3 separate regions of the Homo sapiens genome follow, and all the other regions are linked to region 1. Evidence: fine-mapped expression QTL. A gene starts in region 1. Each other region holds a variant in brackets. All regions are shown on one strand. Distances are between the middles of the regions.

Region 1 (8,073 bases):
GCACAAGGCACAGCAGGGCCAGTGCCAGGCTCCGGGCCACCTTCTGCAGCCACCGGCAGCTCTGTAGGGATCAAGCACTCCATGAGTGCTGCCCCAGGGTGGCTCCCACAGTCCCTGCCCACCCATCCACTCAGGACCTCACCAGTGGGCGGCCTTGGACAGCTTGTAGGTAGCTGTGGAAGGATATCCAGGGCCCGAAGACGATGGTGCCCACGAAGTAGAGGTAGCCCATGAACTCCACTGGCGAGGGCACCGTACCCACCTCGCCCCGGTCCAGGTCGAAGCCCAGAGACACTGCCTTCATGGCCACAATCATCTGTGCCCCTATGTGTGGTGCCCATGGTCAAGTGGATGGGCAGAGAGCAGATCAGCATGGCAAGGAGGAGGTGCACCAGGTGAGATGTGGTAGGAAAAGCGGGCACAAGGATGGATAGGTGGGCATGGGACAGATAGGCAGGTGGGCAAGGAAGCCCAGGACAGATAGATGCCCTTACTCCAGAGAGTCAGGCACATACATGACACGAGACAGACAGACTTCGGGAAAATGCACGGTGGAAAGAGACACGGACCCAAGAGTAATGTGAGGTCTGCACGTCCAGTGGGGTGGGCAGGTGAGGGAGAAAAGCAGGAGAGGAAAGGCACAGGGTGGGGGCAGTTAGGAGACGAGGAGTGGGGCAGGGGGGTTGGGCAGGTGAGAGGGGCAGGGCTACCTACCTCGCATCTTGTGCCATGTCACGGTGTCTACCATGTGCATCTCACTGAGGAAAAAGGTGCTGGTCTTGGTCCCATGACACTCATGGCCTCTGAGACCATGGGGGACAGGGGAAGGGGGTCCAAGGTGCCCAGAGGGTTCTACCTCCTCCTGTCCTACAACAGTCTCATGGTGGAAAAATTCTCCCAGGCTCCCTCCTCCAGGGGGAGCCCATGCCCAACCTGTCCCTTACAGTCCTGTGAAAGGACAAATCTCCCAGATTCCCTTCTCCAGGGACACTCCACGTCCTACCTGTTCTGTGTCTCCTCATAGGCAAATGATTCTCCCAGACTCCCTTCTTTCTCCGGGGAATCTCACCACCCTCCCTGTCTTGGACAACTTCATATGGGGCCTGGGGACCCACCCATGCACTTCAGCCAACAGTGTGAGGATAAGGATGCATACTCATACCCCATGAGTAGGTAGATGAGGATGGTGACGGATAGGAAGACGCCTCGATGGGAGGAATGTCGGCAGAGGAACAGCACGAGGTAGCACAGGAGGCTGAGCAGCACGACCCAAACCATGTGCAGCTGGAAGAAGTGGTAGAGGCTGAAGAACCCGCCTGCCACGGTGCTTGCATGCTTCAGGTAGGATGGCAACCCTTTGGGTGAAAGGGAGAAAGAAAGGGAGAGAGAGAACGAGAAAGAGAGAGAAAGAGAGGGAGTGGGAGGAAGGGAGGGAGGGAGGGAGAGAGAGAGGGAGAACAAGAAAGAGAAGGTTGGTGGGCTAGTAGGAAGGGGAGGATGACCTGGGTAGAGGGCGTAGCCAGGGCAAAGGCCTTCAGGCTGGAATGTAGTGGGATTGGAGGGGCCCAAAGCAGGTGTTGGGGAGCTGGAGAGGGTGGCAGGGCCTGGGTTTAAAGAAAAGAAACATCTATAAAGGGCATTTGGGGGACCTTGGAAGAAATTCAAATATCAATTTATATAGGATAACATTATTGTATCCAGATTCAATGTCTTGTGGGGTGATGGTGGAGGATGTGGTTGTGGGAGATGATGTCCTTGTTCTCAGGGGCCACACACTGAAGGATGTGGGGTACAGTGTCATGATGTCAGCAGGTTATTCAGGCAATTCAGGAAGATGATAGATAGATAGATGGATAGATAGATAGATAGATAGATGGATAGATATACAGATAGATAGATAGATAGACAGATAGAGCCAGCTAACGTGGCAAGATGTTGACAGAGAATCTGGTGATGCATACGTGGGTGCTCACTGTACTATTTTTTCAACATTTCAGTAGCTTTGAAAAATTTCAAAATAATAAACCTGGGAAAAAATAGAACATCCATTTAAAATTAAAAAAGAAAGAAAGAAAAAAGAAAGTGTAGAACCTTCGGATCTCAGATTTCCAGAAATCTCCGCCTCCTATAGGAATCTTGGGGACTTGGAATCTTTCATTAAGATACAGGCCTGCTATGACTGTGGAAACATTTCAGAATCCTAGAATCCAGAAATCGCATCATGCCCTGATTATAGAAATCCACAATGCCAACATTTTAGAAGTCTAGAATGTGAGAATTTCAAATTGTCAGAATCTCCAAACGCTGTAATCATGGTACTTTGGGATTCCATAACCCTGTGACATCAGCATGCCAATGTCTTATAACCTTGGGATGTAGACATTTCAGAATCCCAAGATCCAAGAATCTCAGCTTTCTGGAATCCCAGAACTCAGGAATACTGAAGGGCATGGCTTGGCATGGCAGGATGTGGCTCGGTGTGGCATGGCATGGGGTGGCTGGCATAGTAGGATGTGGTATGGTGGAATGGGGTTTGGCCTGGTGGGATGTGGTGGGGCTGAACATGTTGGGGTCCAGCTTGGACATGCTAGGGCCTGGCAGGATGTGACAGGGTAAGGTGTGGCTCGATATGGATGAATGTGGGAGGTCTGATATGGCCTGGCATGGTGGCACACGGTATGGCAGGCACTTACCGAGCCTCCAGAGGAGGCGGCAGGCGAGGCAGATGGCAAGGAGCAGCCAGATCTGGTCAAGGCCCTGCTGGGCAGTAGGCAGGAGACAGCCTTGCAGTAGCTGCTGGAAAAATTCCTGGCGGCTAAAGGTGGCCATTGCAGACCCCCACGGATGGATGGCCAGATGGATAGATCTGTCAAAGCAGGGACACAGAGGGAGCGGGTGTCCGTGGGGCAGACCTCGCTTAAAGGATGCACTCTGGCACTCACATTTCAGTTTGGGGCTGCCCAGCCCATGTAGAGGCACGGTACTGGAGGACTGGGGGAAGGCGTGAGAAGTCAGGTACATCAGACTGAGCCACCAACTGTGTGCATGTGGGTGTTCGGCATGCACACGCACAGCCTGTGACCTGGAGTGAATGAAGGACCTCTGTCTCTCCAGTGCTGTGAACAGTCCAGTCCGATGGTGATGGGATGGCATACATTTCAGGCCCATATATCAAATGGGGCGGGCGACGGGAAGGGGAATCCCTGGTTTCCAAGGTAGAGTCGCTCTGAGTGGAGGGCAGAGAGGGGGATTCTGTGACACTTGGGGGCCGTGTGCATCTCTCCTTGTATGGATGCGGCGGCACGGGGAGGGGGGGTGTCCTGTATCCTCCGCGCCCCCCATCTCATCCCCACCCGGCGAGAGGCCGCCAACAAAGTCCTGCCCAGGTCCGGGGGCTGCAAGGAGGTGGTGGTAGGAGACATAGCCTGAGGGAGAGTCGGAAAGGTGATGGGGAGGGGGTCCTAGCACTCGCGCTACAGATCCGCCTGGGGAGGCCGGCCCAGGGATGGGAGCTGGGGAGCCGCGTGCGCACTACTGGCGACCTACCTGGCAGGAAAGAAGCCGTGGTCCTGGGGACCGAGGACGCGCTGCCGCCGCCGCTGCCTCCTCCGGGCAGCCTCCCCCGCAGGCCGCAAGGCCGGGACCAGCAGCGGCTCCCAGAGCGGCGCGGCGAGCGGGCCCTTTAAATCCCGGGGCGGCCCGGCCGCCGGCTCGGCCAATGGGAGAGCAGGAGGGGGGCGGGGACGGGGACGCGGAGGAGGGGAGCAGGAGGATTGAGGGGAGACCGGCGCGGGGGGACGTCGGCGCGCAGGACGTTCACGCCCGCACCTTTCCGGCCTGTGGCGGTTTCAGCCCCAGACCGTCTGCCTCCGGAGGATTTCTGGCCATCCAAGAACAAACTTCCGAATCTCCAAATTTCCAAGCCTTGGAAGTGAGAAGGGAAAGATGGGGGAGGGAGGAGGGAAGCCGCTGCACCCCCAAATAGTCACCCGCGCACGTCCTCTAAATACCGTGGTGTCCCCGTTTCACAGATGGGAAAACAAACCGAGATCTCTCCTTCCCCAACCTTTGAGAGAACCGAAGTAACTCCCAACCCTCCCACCTCCTGGGACCGGCCAGGAACATTTATAAGTAATGACTGTGTCACCTAGGAACACAAATTAGGCGCCTGTGCTTCCCCTGGGGACGAGCTGTGAGCACTTGGCGTGTCGTCGTTGAGAAGTGATTTGCATGCTTAATTCCCCAGCAGACTCTTTGCTTCGAAGGTGACCCCAGCGACTAGTAAATGTTCTCTGTGAACTAGAGGGAGGCTAGTACCGAGCACTTAAAAGGGGGGCATTTATAAAGCTCTTAAGGGCCAGGCTCGGTGGCTCACGCCTATAAACCCAGCACTTCGGGAGGCCAAGGGTAGGAGGATAGCTTGAGGTCAGGAGTTCGAGACCAGCCTGGCCAACATGGCGAAACCCCGTCTCTACTAAAAATACAAAAATTAGCCAGGCGTGGTGGCGCACGCTTGTAATCCCAGCTACTCGGGAGGTTAAAGCAGGAGAATCAGGAGGCAGAGGTTGCAGTGAGCCAAGATCGCGTCATTGTGGGCTACAAGAGCGAAACTCCGTCTCAAAATAAATAAATAAAGACTGGGCGTGGTGGCTCACACCTGTAACCCAGCACTTTGGAAGGCCGAGGCGGATGGATCACCTGAGGTCATGAGTTTGAGACCAGGCTGGCCAATATGGCGAAACCCTGTCTCTACTAAAAATACAAAAAATTTAGCTGGGCGCCTGTAATCCCAGCTACTCCGGAGGCTGAGGCAGGAGAATCACTTGAGCCCAGGAGACGGAGGTTGCAGTGAGCCGAGATCACGCCATTGCACTCCAGCCTGGGTGACAAGAGCAAAACTCCTTCTCCAAAATAAATAAATAAATAAACAAGAGCGAAACTCCTTCTCTAAATAAATAAATAAATAAAATAAAAAAGAAAGCGCTTACACTGGCCCCATCCGCACCTCTATCTGCACCAACACTAAAGATTTATGTAGCACCCGCCTTCTACCTACCCTACTGCTGCAGTTTCTAGGCATTCCCCTTTGTACCTAGGCTGATGAAGGGCCTATTTTTCCAAAAGAGCACTTACTGGGCGCTTACTGCACTACATGCTTAGCTGTGACGTGGAAGGGAGAAGGAAGCCCAGGTCAAACTGGACGCCACCCTGACCTGGGCAGCCAACTGAAACAGATTTTAATCAGATTAACAATGGCCTGTATGGAGCTGGGCAAGTCATGTTCACTCACCCGTCTCCATTGTCCTTTTCTGTTAAACAAAAGAGTGGGCTTGGCAGGTTTTTGCTGGGAAACACCAATGGTAATTGAAGAGAAATGTATATTTTCTCTCTATTTTAACATGAAGTTAAATGGAGTTCTAGCTCATAAATTAGTATTCATGTATTACAAACAAAAAACATTTAATACGGTAAGAATATGTATATATAAGGAATAATAGCTTAGACCAGATGCACAAATATCAATTCTTTTCCTTAACAGCAGAATACAGGACATACATTTTATGAATTAAATTTCATTTTAATTTTTTTCTCAGTTGTCAAACCCACTCAAGTTGAGTCAACAATGACCCACAGCACCTACCAGAAATACTTCCCTCAATTGCAAGACTTGGCATTTAAAACTGGAAGATTCTTACCACATGTGCTCCTGGGCTTTGCGGACTTGATTGTTTCCATCTAGGCTTTTGACCTGTGTCACAAAGAAGTAGGATCTAGGTTTTAGGATATATAACGAACATCTACAAATCCGAAGAGGACAAACAATACACTTGGCAATAGACATTGGGTACAAATAGGTAATTCACAGCAGAAGAAACCTAAAATGGTCAATATGTATAATATATGAAAAGATAACCCAATCTCTTTACTGCTCAGGGAAATGTAAAATTAAAACAACAGTGAGATATAATACCATTTTACATCTACCAGATGTTGTGCTTCATATTTTTATCACTGGAGCTTAGTAGAGGGTGGACACTCAATAAATGTCTGTGGTCATTCTAGGTTGTGGTTTCTGGGGTGTTTTAGATGAGCTCTCCATAATTAAAGAGATACAAATTAAAAACAATGATATACTATTTTTCACTTATGGGACTGACAAAAATGCCAAGCCTTATAATGATAACATATTTGCTCTCTCTCTGTCTCTGTCCGTTTCTTTCTCCCCATGTATATACATATGTAATTTACATATATATAATTTTTCTGAATGATATACAGTGATTTTTCTGAATTATTTGTTAGTGGTTGCGGATATGACACCCTTTTAACTAAATACTTCAGTATGAATATCCTAAGAGCAAGGACTTTTTTTTCTTTTTTTACATTGCTACCAGCATAGTATGAGGTTTCCATTGCTCCACATCCTCACAAATACTTGTTATCTGACTTTTTGGTTCTAGCCACCCTGGTGGGCATGTCAATAGTGTCCTTGTATAGGAAAAGGGAATCATAGGGTCACAAGATACATTCTGTTATCAGGTTTTTTTAGTCTCCTCCAATGTGGAACAATGTCTCCATCTTCACTTAACTTTCATGATCTTGATGTTTTGGGAGAGCACAGACCAGTTCTTTGGAAGAATGTCCTTCAATTTGGGTTTATCTGATGTCTCCTCATGATTAGATTTGAATTCTGCATTTTTGGCAGGAATTCCACAGAAGTGACGCTGTGTTCTCAGCGTTATCAGGAGGCAGGAGGGTTCAGTTAGTCTCGAAATTGTTAGTATTAGCATTGATCTTTTGCTTAAAGTGGTCTTCTAGTTTTCACCAGTATAAATTTACTATTTTTCCCTTTGTAATTTTTTTTCTTTTTTTTTGGAGACAGGGTCTTGCCCTATTACGCAAGCTTGAGGGCATTGACACAATCATGGTTCACTGCATCTTTGAACTCCTGGGCTCATGTAATCTTCAAGGACTACAGGTGTGAGTCACCATGCCCGGCTAATTTTTAAATTTTTTGTAGAAACAGTCTCACTATGTTGCCCAGGCTGGTCTCGGATTCCTGGGCTTAAGCAATCCTCCTGCATTGGCCTCCCAAAGTGCTGGGATTACAGGCATGATCCCCTTTTGTAATTAATAAGTAGCTTTTCGGGAGATACTTTGAGACTGTAACTCTGCAATTTTTTTTAAATCAAACTTTTACTCACTACTTTAGCATTCATTGGTGATTCTTGCCTGAAGCAATAACTACTCTGATGGTGGCCAAATAATGATTTTTCTTTTACACATATACCTGGGATTTTACTGTGAGGAAGAGCTTTGTCTCTCTCTCTCTCTCTCTCTGGGACTCATAAGATTCTTATTTTATTTTATTTTTTATATTTATTTATTTATTTATTGAAACGGAGTCTCGTTCTGTCACCTAGGCTGGAGCGCAGTGGTGTGATCTCCACTCACTGCAACCTCCACCTCCTGGGTTCAATGGATTCTCCTGCCTCAGCCTCCCGAGTAGCTGGGATTACAGGCACCCGCCACCACACCTGGCTAATTTTTGTATTTTTAGTAGAGACGGGTTTTGCCACGTTGGCCAGGCTGGTCTCGAACTCCTGACCTTAGGTGATCCACCCGCCTCAGCCTCCCAAAGTGCTGGGATTACAGGCATGAGCCACCGTGCCTGGCCAGATTCTTATTTTGTTGATTGACTGATTGATTGTTAGGGTCTCACTGTGTTGCCCAGGCTGGAGGGCAGTGGCTCAATCATAACTCACTGCAGCCTACAACTCCTGGGCTCAAGTGATCCTCCTGCCTCGGCCTCCTGAGTAGCTGGGACTTTTAAAAATTCTTTTCTGGGCCAGGCGCGGTGGCTCACGCCTGTAATCCCAGCACTTTGGGAGGCTGAGATGGGTGGATCACCTGAGGTCAGGAGTTTGAGACCAGCCTGGCCAACATGGTGAAACCCCATCTCTACTAAAAATACAAAAAAATTAGCCAGGTGTGGTGGTGGGCGCCTTGTAATCCCAGCTACTCAGGAGGCGGAGGCAGGAGAATCGCATGAATCTGGGAAGCAAAGGTTGC
Region 2 (8,073 bases), 21 kb after region 1:
GACCTGAGCCCATAGGCACACTTGCACTTTTGCACACACACATGCATGGTGCCCAGAGGTACATGTGTACAGACACCACAATCTAGGTTCCTGGGCACTTGTGCATCTGTGCACACACACACGTGGGAAATCCCTGCAGCCATGCATACAGCATGCCCACGTACATGTGCACAGACATCTACGCCCAGGCCCTTGTGTACCTGTTCACTCACACTTGCACGGGGCGGGGGGGGCGGTGCCCAGGGGTATACATGCATAGATACTAGACTTACCAGCTTGGGCCAATGTGCTCCCCTTCACTTACGCACTCACACACAGCCATGCATGTGCACGCTGGCATACACATGTATATACACAGACACAAACACTCAGGCTAGCACCCACGGACATAGGGCTTTGCACATAGAATCTCATATATAAGTACACCCTCACACATATGCACAGTTGCTTTTCACAAACACCCCTGTCAGGGAACAGGTCCCCATGTGCCTGCTACACCCTAGCATCTCCATGAGAATTCACACTTGAACTTCTGTTGCCCATATGCACTTATAACCATACCTGCATTCAAAACAGCAAAGCATGAATGCACACACATGTGCCATGTATGCATGCATGCACAAAAGGACTAATGTGCACACACATGGGCATAAGCACACCACGCACTCCTGCATAACTTCACACGTACTGGTACGCACACACCTATGTGCGGGCATGCATACCAATTATCCCGAGGCTCTTCTCCACCAACCCTGCATAACTGGTGATGGCTCCCAGCTCTGGCATCGGGCAGAACTTTCTTGTGAGGTACGGGCTGTGACTCATAATTCACTCCAGCTTTCCTCAGCTCCTGTGTCATCTAGAGAGACTCAGAACACTTGCCCCTTCCCTTGGGCTGCCACCAAGCCTGAGATGACACCACACCTATTCTCCCGAACCAAGGCATCGAGCAACCTGGCATGAACCAGGTGTGGGTGGAGTGTTAGAGGAAGCCTTGGGGCAGTTCTGAAAGCTCCCCAAGCAATTATTAGTCATTTTGTTATGTGGCAGAGGATATTCCATGGACACCGCCCCCAGAACCTGCAGGAGTGCCACGGATTTCATTCCAGGCTTGCCCTGGGCCCCTCCTGCTGCTCCAGAGCCCCCTTCAGCTAGACGAGGAGGATGTGCTGAATTTTCCTTCCTTCACTTGAGCACTGGCTCCCCTCATACCTGGCCAACACGAGTCTCTTGAAATCAGCCTTGAAACTGAGAGCCAATTAGCTGCTCAGACTGCCTTAACAAAATACCTCAGACTGGGTGGCTTAAACCACAGACGTTTATTTTCTCACAGTTCTGGAGGCTGGAAGTTCAAGATCAAGGTGCCGGTAGGGTTGGTTTCTGGTGAGGCTTCTCTTTCTGGCTCGTAGACAGCCACCTTCTTTCTCTGTCCTCATGTGGCTTTTCCTTTGTGCGCCCACAGGGAGAGAGGGAGGGAGCTCAGGCATCTCTTCCCTCTCTAATGAGGACACCGGTTCTATCAGATTAGGACCCTGCCCTTATGGCCTCATTTAATCTTAATTACCCCCATCTCCAAATACAGTCACATTGAGGATTAAAGCTTCAACAAAGGAATTTGCTGAATTCACAATTCAGTTCACAGCAGACAACAAAGGGAGCACTACCTTGAGCAGTTGAGGGAGGCCCCGGCTCCCTCCTTTTCCTCAGGTGCATTCCTGAGATGTGTTTGTGCAGGAAGGAGAGGGGTAAGGACAGGCATGAGCACAGCCTCTCTTGCAGAAATAGAAATCTTTATTGCTTGCAAAGTACTGCACTTTTTTTGTTTTGTTTTGTTTTTTGTTTTTTCTTCAAAACAGGGTCTTGCTCTGTTGTCCAGGCTGGAGGGCAGCAGCATGATCTCAGCTCACTGCCGCCTCAATCTCCCAGGCTAAAACGATCCTCCCACCTCAGCCTCCCAAAGTGCTGGGATTACAGGCATGAGCCACCATGCCTGGCCAGTACTGCACATTTTCCAAAAGTTATAACTTAAATGTAAAGAGTTATAATTTACATACGATAAAGTTCACCCTTTTGGCATACAGTTCTCTGAGTTTTGACAAACAATAACAGTTGAGTAGCCGCCACCACAGCAGCCAGAGGGATCCTGTTGCAACCCAAGTCAGCCCGGGGCCCTCCTCTGCTCGGAGCCCTGCCATGGCTCTCATCTCTCTCAGAGAAAAAGCCAAAGTCCTCTCCGTGGCCCACGAGGCCCTCCGGGCCCTCCTTGACCTCACCGCCCGCCACTGGCTCCTTGTTCACTCTGCTCCTGCCCCACTGGCCTGTTCTTCAAATGTGCCAGGCACCTCAGGGCCATTGCCTCAGGGCCCTTGCCTTTCTTTCTTTTTTTTGAGACAGAGTCTTGGCCTATCACCCAGGCTGGAGTGCAGTGGCACAACCTCAGCTCACTGCAACCTCCGCCTCCCAGGTTCAAGTGATTCTCCTGCCTCAGCCTCCCAAGTAGCTGGGATTACAGGTATGTGCCACCACGCCTGGCTAATTTTTGTATTTTTAGTAGAGACGGGGTTTCACCATGTTGCCCAGGCTGGTCTCAAACCCCTGACCTCAGGTGATCCACCCACCTTGGCCTCCCAAAGTGTTGGGATTACAGGTGTGAGCCACCACATCCGGCCCTTCGCCTTTCCCTGGATCACTCTTCCTCTAGATACACCCTCCCAGCTCACACTGACAGGGAAGAGTGCACTCCCAGGTTTACACTGACTGCTATAGGGACCTTCCCAGGGTCACACAGCCTGGGGTGTGGATCCTCTTGGAATCACACAGGTGAGGGTGTAGACACTCATGATGTTACTAGATTTTGGAGTAAGAAATCCTGAGGTCATGCTGATTGTGGTGTAGCCACTTCTGGGGTCACACAGAGTAGGGTGTGGCCACTGCTGAAGCATCACAGACCGGGATGTGTTCTCTTAGGGTCATACAGATTGGTGTGTGGGCAACACTGGAGTCACGCAGACTGGAGTGACTTGGATCACCGAGTTTGGGGTGTGGACACTTAGGGTCACACAGTCTGGAAAAAGGACATGGCTAAGGATACATAAACTGGGAAGTCAGCACCACTGTGGTCAAGTGACTGTGATGTGGACACTCCTGGATTCCCATAGGTTCGTCTGGGGACACTCCTGTGGTTACACGACTTGTGAAGTAGACTCTGCTGGGGTCACACAGACCCAGCTGTGGATATGCTTCGTCTGTGTGACTGGGGGGTGAATGTCCCCTGAGTGACAAAGATTGGCGAAGGGACACCCTTGGGCTCCCAAGACTTGGTGTAGATCCTTCTAGACTCCCACTGACTGGGGGGAGGGACACTCCTGGAGTCACACAGACTTTGTTGTGGACACTGTTGGTGTCATACCCACTGGAGTATAGACACCTCTCAGGACATGCAGATAGGTGTGGACACTCCTGTGGTCACACAATTTGGTGTGAACATTCCTCTGGTCACACTGACTGGGGAATTGACTCCTGTGTGTTTACAGACACTGGGGTGTGAAGACTCCTATGGTCACACAGACAGGGCTGTGCCCTCCCCTGGGTCACCCAGACTGGAATGTGGACCCACCAGTAGTCACTGGCACTGGAGTTTTACACTCCTGTGGTCACAATGACAGGGGAGTCGATAGTCTTCTGGTCGTACAGATGGGGGAGTGCACCTGCCTGAGGCCGTCAAGATGGGTATAGACACACTAATAGCCAGAGACTATGGGGTTTGGACAACACCAGGGTCACATATGCTGGGAACTGGACATTACTTGTGTCATAAAAACTTGGGTGGGGACACTCCTGAGGTGGCTGGACTGGGGCAAAACCACTCCCAGGACACCACAGACTGAGCTGTGGACTCCTCTGTGGTCACCGTTTGAGCTACACATTTATGGCACCACTAAGATGGCTATGGAAACTCCAAGCCATTGCCACTGCTGGACTCACAGAACCTGGCGTGAGGACACTCCTGAGGTCTCACAGGCTGTCGTGTGAACGCTGCTGAATTTGCACTGTAATGGGTGTGGCTACGCCTGTGGTCACACGGCCTTTTGTGTGGACACTTCCGCCATACATTCTTGGGCTGTGCATATTCACAGATTGGGGTGTGGGCATTCCTGTGGTCACACTGACTTCGGTGAGAAGACTCCTGGGTTAAGTCACCATGGTGTGGACACTCCTAGACTGACACAAACTGGGGTCTGGACATTCCTGGAGTCACACAGACTGGGGTGTGGTTATTTT[C/T]GTGGTCAGAGACCGGAGTGTAGACATGCCTATGAACACACGCTCCAGAATTTAAACACCATTTCTGACTGGAGATTGGACAATGGTTTTCCCAGACTTGAGTGTGCATACTCCTGGGGTCACACATGGTAACTGGGGTGAGTCACAGTCAGGTGTGGAAACAGCTGGGGTCGCAGACTGGTATGTGGATACTCCTGAGGTCACTGGACTGTGGCGTGGATAGTCCTTGGATCACAGAGTACGTGAATTTCTAAGGACACAGGATTAAGCTGTAGAAAACAGTTCTGTTCGTGTAGCTGGGGAGTTTCTGTCAGCTCCTGTTCATTAAGTTATAGAAATTTAGGACTGCAGTCCAGGTAGACTTTCTGACATTGCTTTTTTTTTTTGAGACAGAGTCTCACTCTGTCGTCCAGGCTGGAGTGCAGTGGCGCGACCTCGGCTCACTGTAACCTTCATCTCCCGGGTTCAGGTGATTCTCCTGCCTCAGTCTCCTGAGTAGCTGGGATTACAGGCATGTGCCACCGCACCCAGCTAATTTTTGTATTTTTGGTAGAGACGGGTTTCACTATGTTGGCCAGACTGGTCTCAAACTCCTGACCTCAAGTGATCCGCTTGCCTCAGCCTCCCAAAGTGCTGGGATTACAGGCGTGAGCCACCACGCCTGGCCCTGACGTTTCTTTAAGACAGGTTTTTAACCTAAAAAATTTGTTCTGAAGTCTGGGTGCGGTGGTTCACGCATGTAATCCCAGCACTTTGGGAGGCCGAGGTGGGTGGATCACCTGAGGTCAGGAGTTCGAGACCAGCCTGGACAAAATGGTGAAACCCCGTCTCTACTAAAAATACGAAAATTAGCCGGGTGTGGTGGCGGGTGCCTGTAATCCCAGTTACTCGGGAGGCTGAGGCAGGAGAATCGCTTGAACCCAGGAGGCAGAGGTTGCAGTGAGCCAAGATCACACCACTGCACTCCAGCCTGGGTGACAGAGCGAAATTCTGTCTCAAAATAAATAAATAAATTTGTTCTGCAGAACCCTTTGGCATCTGGTTAAATCTGTGAACCCCTTCACAGAATATTTTTAAAAGTATATACATACACATACACACACACACAATTACAATGGAAGCCAATTACATTGAATTACAATTATTACTATATATTAAATTGAAACAAAATTGAGATGCAGTAATATATGGGCTTTTTAATTAATACATCAACTTACAGGATCTGCTATCATTCCAAGAGGTGACAAATATGAACAATACTTCAAGATGCCCTTTTTATGTTACATTACAGTTGCTGTAACTGGTTTGTATTGGTGGGAAAATCCCAGGTACTGCTTTTACTACTGTGATTTGTTGCCAGCATTTATAACTTGGGAGTAAGGCTAAATTTCAGTTTCATTGCTGAAAATAAAGATGTAACATTTTCTTCCATCAAGTTCATGGTTACCCCTGGCTTCTATCCAGGTTAAGAATCCCTGCCTTTAGGGAAAATTCTGGACATAATCAGGACACTCCTGAAGAGGTTTAAAGAAGAGGTAAGACCTCACTCAAGAATTCCCACTGCAGTACAGACAGACTTTCATGGTTTCTTTCCTTGTTGTCTTCAGGGTTGTTGCAGATCCCTCCTCAGGGCTTGTTTGTCCAGGCCTCGTTGATGAGATGATATTTTGAAAACAAGTTCATCAACAAGTTCCGGTTTTCCTGACATTGAGCAGTTTCTGAGTTGTATCAGTTTGCCAGCTAACCAAAAGTCAAAGAAAGTTTTTTTGTTTTGTTTTGTTTTTTTAGAGACAGGGTCTTGCTCTGTCACCCAGGCTGGAGTGCAGTGGAGCTCCATCATAGCTCACGACAACCTTAACCTCCCAAGCTCAAGTGATCCTCCCACCTCAGCCTCCCAAGTAGCTGGGATTACAGGCAGGAATGTGCCACCACACCTAGCTAACTCTGCTGCTAACATTTTTGTGACATTTCCTCCTTTTATGGTGAACCATGACATATAGAAAATGCATAAAACCTATATATGTTCAGTTTAATGAATAACTACAAGGTGTTATTTGGTGTAATTGCAGGATGTTCACTGTCATTGTTGTACAGTTCTCCACGGTGAATGTACCACGATTTAATGGGCATATACTATAGATAGTGCTGCTAGCAACACTCTAGGACTCATTTCCTTTTTTTTGAGATGGAGTCTGACTCTGTCACCCAGGCTGGAGTGCAGTGGCACGATCTCAGCTCACTGCAACCTCCACCTCCCAGGTTCAAGTGATTCTCCTGCCTCAGCCTCCTGAGTAGCTGGGATTACAGGTGCCCGCCACCATGCCCGGTTAATTTTTGTATTTTTAGTAGAGATGGGGTTTTGCCATGTTGGTCAGGCTGGTCTTGAACTCCTGACCTCAGGTGATCCACCCACCTCGGCCTCCCAAAGTGCTGGGATTACAGGCGTTGAGCCACGGCACCCGGCCTCTAGGACTCATTTCTTAGGAGTGGAACTGGCACACATGCAGCTTTAGTAGGTAATGCCTAAGTTTCCACAGTGGCTGCACCATTTTACCTTCCCAGTAGCATGTACGAGGCTTTCAATTGCTGCATATCCTTTCAAATACTTAGTGTTGTTGATATTTTGAGTTTTCACTTGTATTTTCCTGATGAGCAGCTTTTCATGTGCTTACTGGCCACTCTCATGTTTTTCCTTATTGATTTACAGGACCCTTTAAATATTAAAAACTGTAAATCTCTTTCACACAATGATTTGCTGTTTCAATTTTTTCTTAAGGTGGCTTCTTGTGGCCAGGTGTGGTGGCTCAGGCCTGTAATCCCAGCACTTTGGGAGGCCTGAGGCAGGCAGATTTTGTGAGGTCAGGAGTTTGAGACCAGCCTGGCCAACATGGTGAAACCCCGTCTCTACTAAAAATACAAAAATTAGCCGGGTGAGGTGGGAGCACACGTCTGTAATCCCAGCTACTCAGGAGGCTGAGGCAGGAGAATCTCTTGAACCCGGGAGGCGGAGGTTGGAGTGAGCTGAGATAGTGCCACTGCACTCCACCCAGCCTGGGCGACAGAGCGAGACTCTGTTCTCAAAACAAAACAAAAAACAAAACAAAAAAGGCCAGGTGTGGTGGCTCACACCTGTAATCCCAACACTTTGGGAGGCCGAGGCAGGTGGATCACCTGAGGTCACGAGTTTGAGACCAGTCTGGTCAACATGGCAAAACCCCATCTCTACTAAAAATACAAAAATTAGCCATGCATAGTGGCGGGCACTGTAATCCCAGCTATTTGGGAGGCTGAGGCAGGAGAATCGCTTGAACTTGGTAGATGGAGGTTGCCGTGAGCTGAGATCATGCCACTGCACTCCAGCCTGGGTAACAGAGTAAGACTCTGTCTCAAGAAAAAAAAAAAGGTGGCTTTTTGTGATGGCTGACTTAGTCTGAATAACCTGCTATGCCATTGTCAGAAAGGGCCATCCTCTAACATCGTGGTTTTAGAACATTTGGCTATGGATAAACTTTCCTCCCATACCACGTGCAGTTCCACCTTTGGGACATGCCTATTTCCTTTACCCAGAATGCTCTTCCCTCAGATAAACACATGGCTTCCCTCCGGCAGTGCCTTCAGGTCTTTGCTCAAACATTACCTCTGAGGAATGTCTGAGGCCTTCTATGACAACCCTTTTAAAAAGTGCAAACTGGCTGGGCGCAGTGGCTCATGCCTGTAATCCTGGTACTTTGGGAGGCCGAGGATGGCAGATCGCTCGAGCCCAGTAGATCGAGACCAGCCTGGGCAACATGG
Region 3 (8,073 bases), 140 kb after region 1:
AACACATGTACATACGCAGGAATACGCCCAAACACAGATACGTACATAAACAAAGATAACTTTCATTTTAGAATTTTGATTATGGGACAGTAAACCATACAAACTCACCGATTTATAAAAGACGTTGGATCTAAATTATATTTCTGACAAAATGGAAGAAGGCTAAACTTTATTTAAGATTTTTCTCCTCAATAGGTAATCTTATGAAGGTGGTGACCCAAATTTTGGGTAAAGCAGTTTGAGTCAGTTACCAACATGTTGAATTAGACAAAGAATTGTTAACTGTAAAAATGTGACTGAATTATGTGAGGAGGCCCAAAAGATAAGAGGTATTCCAATAAGCTTTGTATAATGTTCTCTTGGTCTCAATTCCTCATCCTTGAAGATAAGAGTGTTGTCTTTCCTTTTAGTATAGGAAGGAGATCTTTTACATGGGAATTTCATCTTTTGCTTTTAAGAAACACTACAAAGGTCAGTGATTTTATTTTATTTGTATCTGATGTCTTTCAACTGTCTTTATTTTAATAGTCAGTATGCCAGAGTAGCTGAGGAGTTTTGGAAAAAGAGTTTTGCTTAAAGAAGGATAAAGAGGAAGAGGTAAACGAAGGAGAGGGGAAGGTGTTGGAGAAGAAAATCTCAGCTAGCTTTAGACAATATCTTGCAGTGAGGCAGCCTTTGAGTCTTGAATGTGTTCTGGAGCCTCAAGATACCAACTGAGATAGGAGTCCCATTTGGACTGTATTATTTTAGTTCAGTTTGAGGAAAACAGACTGCGTGAATGATCCCCGTAATGTTGGCACATATTACCAGCTGGCGTCCCAGAAAGAGGGAACTATGTTGGCATGCCTTTGAACTTTGAGAGCCTGTGTGTAAATAAATTAATCTAGGTGATTCGGTTTAATGCCTAATACACAAAAGCCAAATTAAACTCTAAGCATGCAAACGACTCAGAAAATAAAGTACAAACTTACCAGGAAGCATGAGAAGCCTTCTCTAACAGAAAAATCTCTGTAACCCGGCCTCATAACCAGGAGGGAGAAAATCCCTCTTAAACAGGCCGTCTCTGGCTGGGTGTAGTGGCTCACGCCTGTAATCCCAGCACTTTGGGAGGCCGAGGCGGGCAGATCACTTGAGCTCAGGACTTCAAGACCAGCCTGGCTAACAGGGTGAAACCACATGTCTACTAAAAAACACAAAAATTATCCAGGCGTAGTGGCGCACACCTGTAATCCCAGTTACTCGGGAGGACGATGCACGAGAATCACTTGAGCCTGGGAGGTGAAGGTTGCAGTGAGCCCAGATCACACCACTGCACTGCAGCCTGTGCGACAGAGCAAAACACTGTCTCAAAAAAAAAAAAAAAGAAAGAAAGAAAAGAGAAAGACAAGATAAAAAAGACAAGACAAGAAAAGAAAGGAAAAGAAAAGAGGAGGTTTCATAACCAGGAGACAGAGAAAGACCCTTCCTAACAAATTCCCAAATAAAACTGAACTCAACTCCCCGACAAATGGCAGTTTGATCCAAGAAAGTCTCACCGGGGGGAAAGAGGCAACCAGAAAAGCAAAAGCTCAAGGGGACCAAGTGTGCAGACCTCACGCCATAGTTCCAGAGGTCATTGATATCTCCAAGGTGAGTCAGCTTCGGACCCGATTTCTGACACCACAAATATCAAAGTCAAAACCTATGGAGATGAATCTCTTTTTTAAATCGCAATATTAAGGATGTTATATTATGGTTTTTGTTTTTGTTTTTTAAGACAGGGTCTCACTCTGTCGTCCACCCCGGAGTGCAGTGGCACAATCTCGGCTCACTGCAACCTCTGCCTCCCCGACTCAGCCTCTGGAATAACTGGGATTACAGGCATGCACCACCACATCCAGCTAATTTTTTGTAATTTTTGTAGAGACAGGATTTCACCATGTTGCCCAGGCAGGTCACGAACCCCTGGGCTGAAGTGATCCGCCGGCCTCAGCCTCCCAAACGGCTGGGATTACAGGCGTGATCCACCACGCCCATGAATCTCTAAACATTTTATTTGAGAATCATAGAATTGTAATCTGAAGCATACACACAAACTGGCTGGTCTTTGGTATGTCCAAAGAACAATGAGAAAGTTGAGAGTTTTATTAGAAACAGAAATGTTACCTATAGTTTTTAAAGCAAGTCCCTTGGCACCAGAGAAGCTTTCAGGAGCTGGAAGCTCTGATTGGTGAGTGTGGACAATAGGTAAAACAAGCCTTAGAGTCATTGCAGGTTGTTTCAGCAGTTACTAGGTAAAAGTGCTCTTAGGGTGGCAGCAGGCCATTTCAGCCACCAGCTTTGTGGAAAATTCAATTCTTGGAGCAGGTGCAATGTGCCCTGATTGGTTTCTCCCCTGGCCACTCAACTCTGACCTAGTTGTGTATGTGGAAAATGACTCAATTCAGGTGGGTTTCAGTGGCACACGCCTGAAATCTCAGCACTTTGGGAGGCCAAGGCGGGCAGATGGCTTGAGGTCAGGAGTTCGAGACCAGCCTGGTCGACATGGTAAAACCCTGTCTCTAGTAAAAATACAAAATTAGTCCGGTGTGAGGCACGTGACTGTAGTCCCAGCTACTCGGGAGGCTGAAGCAGGAGAATCGCTTCAACCCAGGAAGCTGAGGTTTCAGTGAGCCGAGATCACGCACTGCACTCCAGCCTGGGTGACACAGCGAGACTTCATCTAAAAAAAAAAAAGAATGACTCACTTCTTTCACAATGGTTAAAGCAGAGCCCTGCTTAGCAATGCACAAAAATTCTCCTTTGTGACCCATTCATTTTACTGCTGTTGGCTTTCTTGCTTATGCTTTCAGACAGAGACACTCTCCTTTGACCAAACTTGAATCGGGCTCCTCTGAGTCCTGTTTCTGACTAGGTCTCAACCTCAGGCTCTGTCCTTCATCCAGGGACTCTGCCCATTTAGCCTTTTTCAGCAAAAAACCTGTCAAGTCGGTTTAGCCAGAATCCCCCTGCACCTGAGGCTTCCTCCAAGTAATTTCCCATCTTCTGACCCCCGGCTCCTACTCCCTGACTACAAATCCCCACTTGTCCTTGTGGAGTTGAAGTCGATCCCAATATCACTCTCCCACTGCAAGACCCCATTGCAGTGGTCCCTGTACCTATCACAGTAGTCCCCCCTCTGAGTAAAATCGTCCTTACGATCTTTTTTTTTTTTTATTTTCAGAGACAAAGTCTCACTCTGTAACTCAGGCTGGAGGGCAGTGACCCAATCCTAGCTCACTGCAGCCTGAAATTCCAGGGCCCAAGCAATATTCCTGCCCCAGCCTACCAAATAGCTGGGATTACAGGTACGCACCACCAAATCCAGCCATGTATATATATATATATATTTAAATTCTCTACAGACCCAGGAACTTGATATGCCCGTCTAATTTTTGAATTTTTTGTAGAGACGGGGTTTTGCCATGTTGCCCAGGCTGGTCTTGAACTCCTGGGCTCAATCAATCCTGTTGCTTCAGGCTCCCAAAGTTCTGGGATTACAGGCATGAGCCACTGCAGCTGGCCCTTCCTTACAGTCTTTAATAAGCCCAATAAATACTTGTTTGCTTCAACATTTCCCTGTGTCTTCAATCTCCTGAAGTCATATGGCTGACATTGTCTTTACTCCACCGGTATAAAAATTCCTTTCTTTCGTCGGGTGCAGTGGTTTATGCCTGTAATCCCAGCACTTTGGGAGGCCGAGGCAGGCAGATAACTTGAGGTCAAGGGTTCCAGACCAGCCTGGCCAACATGGCAAGACCACATCTCTACTAAAAGTACAAAAATTAGCCGGGTGTGGTGTTGTGTGCCTGTAGCCCCAGCTACTCAGGAGGCTGAGGCAGGAGATTTGCTTGATCCCAGGAGGCAGAGGTTGCCGTGAGCTGAGATCATGCCACTGCACTCCAGCCTGGGTGAGAAAGCGAGACTCAGTCAAAAAAAAATCATATTTTTCAACACCTTGGAATTATTACACGATTGTATCCTTGCCTCCAGTGTAGTATTTGAGAGATCCGATGTCAGTTTAATTATTTTTCCTCTGTAAGTAACCTGCTATTT[C/G]TCTCTGTTCATTTTTAAAATATTTTTTCTTTGTCTTTCACAATTTTACATTTCACTTTTCCTGTGTGTGTGTGTGTGTGTGTGTGTGTACTATAATACCTTTAAATCTTAAGTCATTTTTTTAAATCTGAGGAATTCTCATTGATTACTTATTTAAGTACACTCTCCTTTTTAATGACTATATTCTCTTCTTATAAGGCTACTATTAGATGTGTTTTGACATTTATTCTTCTATCCTCCCTATTAATTAACTTTTCTTTCATTTACTTCTTCTTTATCCATTACCGATTACTTTCATGAATTCTTTAGATGCATTTCCTCAGCTCAGTAATTGCTTTTTCAACTATATCGGTTTTAACATCCAATCTATTCCGCTGAATTATTTATTTGAGCAGTTAATGTTTTCATATCCAATCTATCCAATAGGTTTTCTATTTACTTATTTATTTATTTATTTGAGACAGAGTCTTCCTCTGTCGCCCAGATTGGAGTGCAGTGGCACGATCTTGGCTCACTGAACCTCTGCCTCCCGAGTCCAAGCAATTCTCCTGCCTCAGCCTCTTGAGTAGCTGGAACCTCAGGCGTGTGACACTATGCCAGGCTAATTTTTGTATTTTTGGTAGAGACGGAGTTTCACCTTGTTGGCCAGACTGGTCTCGAACTCCTGAACTCAAGGGATCCACCTGTCTCGGCCTCCCAAAGTGCTGGGATTACAGGCGTGAGCCACTGTGCCTGGCCTTTTATTTACTTATTTTTTCAGAGTTTCACTCTTGTTTCCCAGGCTGGAGTGCAATGGTGTGATCTCACCTCAATGCAACCTCCACCACCCAGGTTTAAGTGATTCTTCTGCCCCAGCCTCCTGAGTAGCTCGGGTTACAGGCATGCACCACCAAATTCTATCATTCATTAGCATCTGTATCCATTCCTTGAACACCAAAACAGCTTATCTTTTCTTTCTTGTCCCTGCTCCCATCTTCCAAGTTTATAATACTGGGAATTTTAGTTCAAGACTGTAATTTTTAAATTTTTCAATCTAAAGTTTACACTTTTCAATAAATTTTACTATTTTTCTCCTCACCATTGCTTACTGAAATCACCTCCTTCCTCCTAAATTTAGTTTTCCCTTCTCACAGGACTGTATACCAATAATTATTTCTGAAGGGTATATGCGTCATGAATTTTCTGAAATATTTTTCCCCTCATTCTGGATTATCCTGGCTGTATATAGATATCTAGGTTCAACTTTTTTTATTGTTTGTTCTTGTTTTGTTTTTTTGAGATAGTGCCTGGCTCTGTCACCCAGGCTGGAATGCAATGGCACAATCTCGGCTCACTGCAATCTCCACCTCCCGGACTCAAGCAATTCTCCTGCCTCAGCCTCCCAAGTAGCTGGGACTACAGGCATGTGGCACCACACCTGGTTACTTGTGTTTTTTGTAGAAGTGGGTTTCGCCTTGTTGGCCAGGCTGGTCTCAAACTCCTGAGCTCAAGCGAGCATCCGGTCTTGGCGCCGAAAGTGCTGGGACTACAGGCATGAGCCACTGCGCCTGGCCCAAAGTTATTTTAAATCAGCTCCTTGAAAAACCTCTCCATTGCATTCTCTCTTCTCTTTTTCTCTCTGGGACCTTTCAGGATTTTATCTTTATCCTAGAAATTTTACCCCGAGGGTGTGTGTGTGTGTGTGCGCTCGTGCGTGCACAGGTGTGTGTGCACATGTGTGTTAATCAGGCTCAGAACTAGGTGGCTCTTTTCAGGTTGAAGATTCATGTCTTTGTTCAGCTGGGAAAATTCTAGAACATTATTTCTTCAAGTACTGCCTTCTCTCCAGTCTATTTTTTTTTTTCATTTTTGAGATGGAGTTTTGCTCTGACACTGAGGTTGGAGTGCAGTGGCAGGACCTCAGCTCACTGCAACATCTGTTTCCCGGGTTCAAGTGATTCTCCTGCCTCAGCCTCCCAAGTAGCTGGGATTTCAGGTGCCCCCCACCACACTGGGCTAATTTTCGTATTTTTAGTAGAGGCGGGGTTTCACCATGTTGGACAGGCTGGTCTCGAACTCCTGACCTCAGGTAATCTGCCTCCCTTGGCCTCCCAAAGTGTTGGAATAACAGGCGTGAGCCACCGCGCCCATCCCAGTCTTTCTATTCTCTACCTCTGGATCTTCTATTGGATGAACGTTGAAAGTTCTTGGATCTCTTCTCCACTTCCTTTATTATTTTCCTTTCGTAATTTCTGTTTTGTAATCCTTTTCTGCTATATGATAAAGTAGTGCCATGCCTGAACACATTTTTTCATTGGGTTGTTCCAGTTTCTCTTATTGATATGGAAACGCTTTGTTATATATTAGAGATGGTTACTGTTAATTTATTGGGGATGCTTCATTTTCCCCAAAATTTGCCTTTTTTTTTTTTTTTTGAGATGGAGTCTCACTCTGTTGCCGAGGATGGAGTGCAGTGGTGCGATCTCGGCTCACTGCAAGCTCCACCTCCCAGGTTCATGCCATTCTCCTGCCAGGTTCATACCATTCTCCTGCCTCAGCCTCCCGAGCAGCTGGGACTACAGGCGCCCACCACCACACCCGGCTAATTTTTTGTACTTTTAGTAGAGACGGGGTTTCACCGTGGTAGCCAGGATGGTCTCGATCTGCTGACCTCGTGATCTGCCCGCCTTGGCCTCCCAAAGTACTGAGATTACAGGCATGAGCCACTGTGCCTGGCCTAATATTTGCCTTTTTAAACAGTTTTTTATGGTGTCTTTTGACTTAGATGATACTTTAATTTTTACGTCTTTAAATATGTCAGATTCATTATTTATAGCCTTGGTGTAATATCAGGAAGTGCCTATGCCAACTCAAGATGTCTTACACTGTAATATTTTCCTAAAATTTCATCTAGTTCTTTATGACTTCACGTTTTCACATTTAAGTCTCTGAATTTTTAGAATTTATTATTTTATGTGGTTGAAAGTAAGGATTTAATGTTTATTTTTCCAAATGGATAGACACTTGTCAACAATCCTTTATTACACAACCCATCTTTTGCCCACTGTTTGGAAATGCATGCTTAAGTTTGTATATAAATTAGTTTGTTTCTTGACTTATTATTTTGTTTCACTAATTAATCTATTTCTAAGTGTATTCATTTTTGATTGCTGCTGTAACAAATTGTCAATAGCTAAGACAACACTGGGCCCGGTGGCTCACACCTGTATTCCCAGCACTTTGGGAGGCTGAGACGGGCAGATCGCTTGAGGTCAGGAGTTTGAAACCAGCCTGGCCAACATGGCGAAACCCTGTCTCTACTAAAAATACAAAAATTAGCCGGTGTAGTGGCGTGCACCTGATATCCCAGCTACTCGGGAAGCTGAGACAGGAGAACCGCTTGAACACGGTAGACAGAGATTGCAGTGAGCCGAGGTCACCCCACTGCCCTCCAGCTTGGACGACAAAAGTGAGACTCCATCTCAAAAAATATTTATATAGCTAAGACAATTTTTGAAAAAGAAGAATAAGGTGGGAGGAATTGCTCTACCATATTTCAATACTTCTTATATAGCTACAGGAATCAAGACTATATATTATTGGGAGAAAAATAGACACATAGATCACTGTAACAAAATAGAAATCCTAGAAATAGCCCCACACTGATTTTTTACCAAGAGACAAAAATAGGGAAAGATCATCTGCTTAACAAATGATGCTGGGGCAGTTGCAGAGCCATAGGCCAAAAAGAAAAAAAAAAAACCAAAAAGGCCTAATCTTCACACCTTTATACAAAAAAGTAAGTCAAGTGGATCATAGATTTAAATCTAAAATATAAAACTATAAAAGGCCGGGCACGGTGGCTCACGTCTGTAATCCCAGCACTTTGGGAGGCCGAGGTGGGCAGATCACGAGGTCAGGAGATCGAGACCATCCTGGCTAACACAGTGAAACCCTGTCTCTACTAAAAATACAAACAAGTTAGCCAGGTGTGGTGGCAGGCGCCTGTAGTCCCAGCTA

Alleles and levels. Positions count from the first base shown, and alleles are read on the strand shown. Sizes are in standard deviations (SD) of each study's normalised expression. Not every link is listed here.
With allele T in place of C in region 2, the expression in fibroblasts of the gene that starts at base 3,658 in region 1 is higher (small effect, 0.36 SD a copy in GTEx).

Evidence for each region.
Region 2: its variant is fine-mapped to the expression of PORCN in fibroblasts (GTEx, PIP above 0.99).
Region 3: its variant is fine-mapped to the expression of PORCN in thyroid (GTEx, PIP 0.93).

What each region holds. Positions count from the first base shown.
Region 1 is chrX:48,504,577-48,512,649 of GRCh38, reverse strand. PORCN (porcupine O-acyltransferase) reads right to left here and starts at 3,658. Exons shown (of 15, transcript NM_203475.3): 1 at 3,547-3,658; 2 at 2,694-2,866; 3 at 1,163-1,355; 4 at 715-758; 5 at 143-324; 6 at 1-61. The coding sequence starts at 2,829. It overlaps PORCN-DT (PORCN divergent transcript), which reads left to right and starts at 3,811. Exons shown (of 2, transcript NR_135596.1): 1 at 3,811-3,931; 2 at 5,595-6,124. RefSeq lists a silencer at 3,432-3,831.
Region 2 is chrX:48,483,684-48,491,756 of GRCh38, reverse strand. It overlaps FTSJ1 (FtsJ RNA 2'-O-methyltransferase 1), which reads right to left. Exons shown (of 13, transcript NM_012280.4): 13 at 5,407-6,021. Among named protein-coding and RNA genes, the nearest start is that of FTSJ1, 12 kb to the right of the region's middle. RefSeq lists a silencer at 2,436-2,669. The variant C/T (reference allele first, on the strand shown) is at 4,282.
Region 3 is chrX:48,362,541-48,370,613 of GRCh38, reverse strand. No RefSeq gene overlaps it. Among named protein-coding and RNA genes, the nearest start is that of SSX3, 9.9 kb to the right of the region's middle. The variant C/G (reference allele first, on the strand shown) is at 4,075.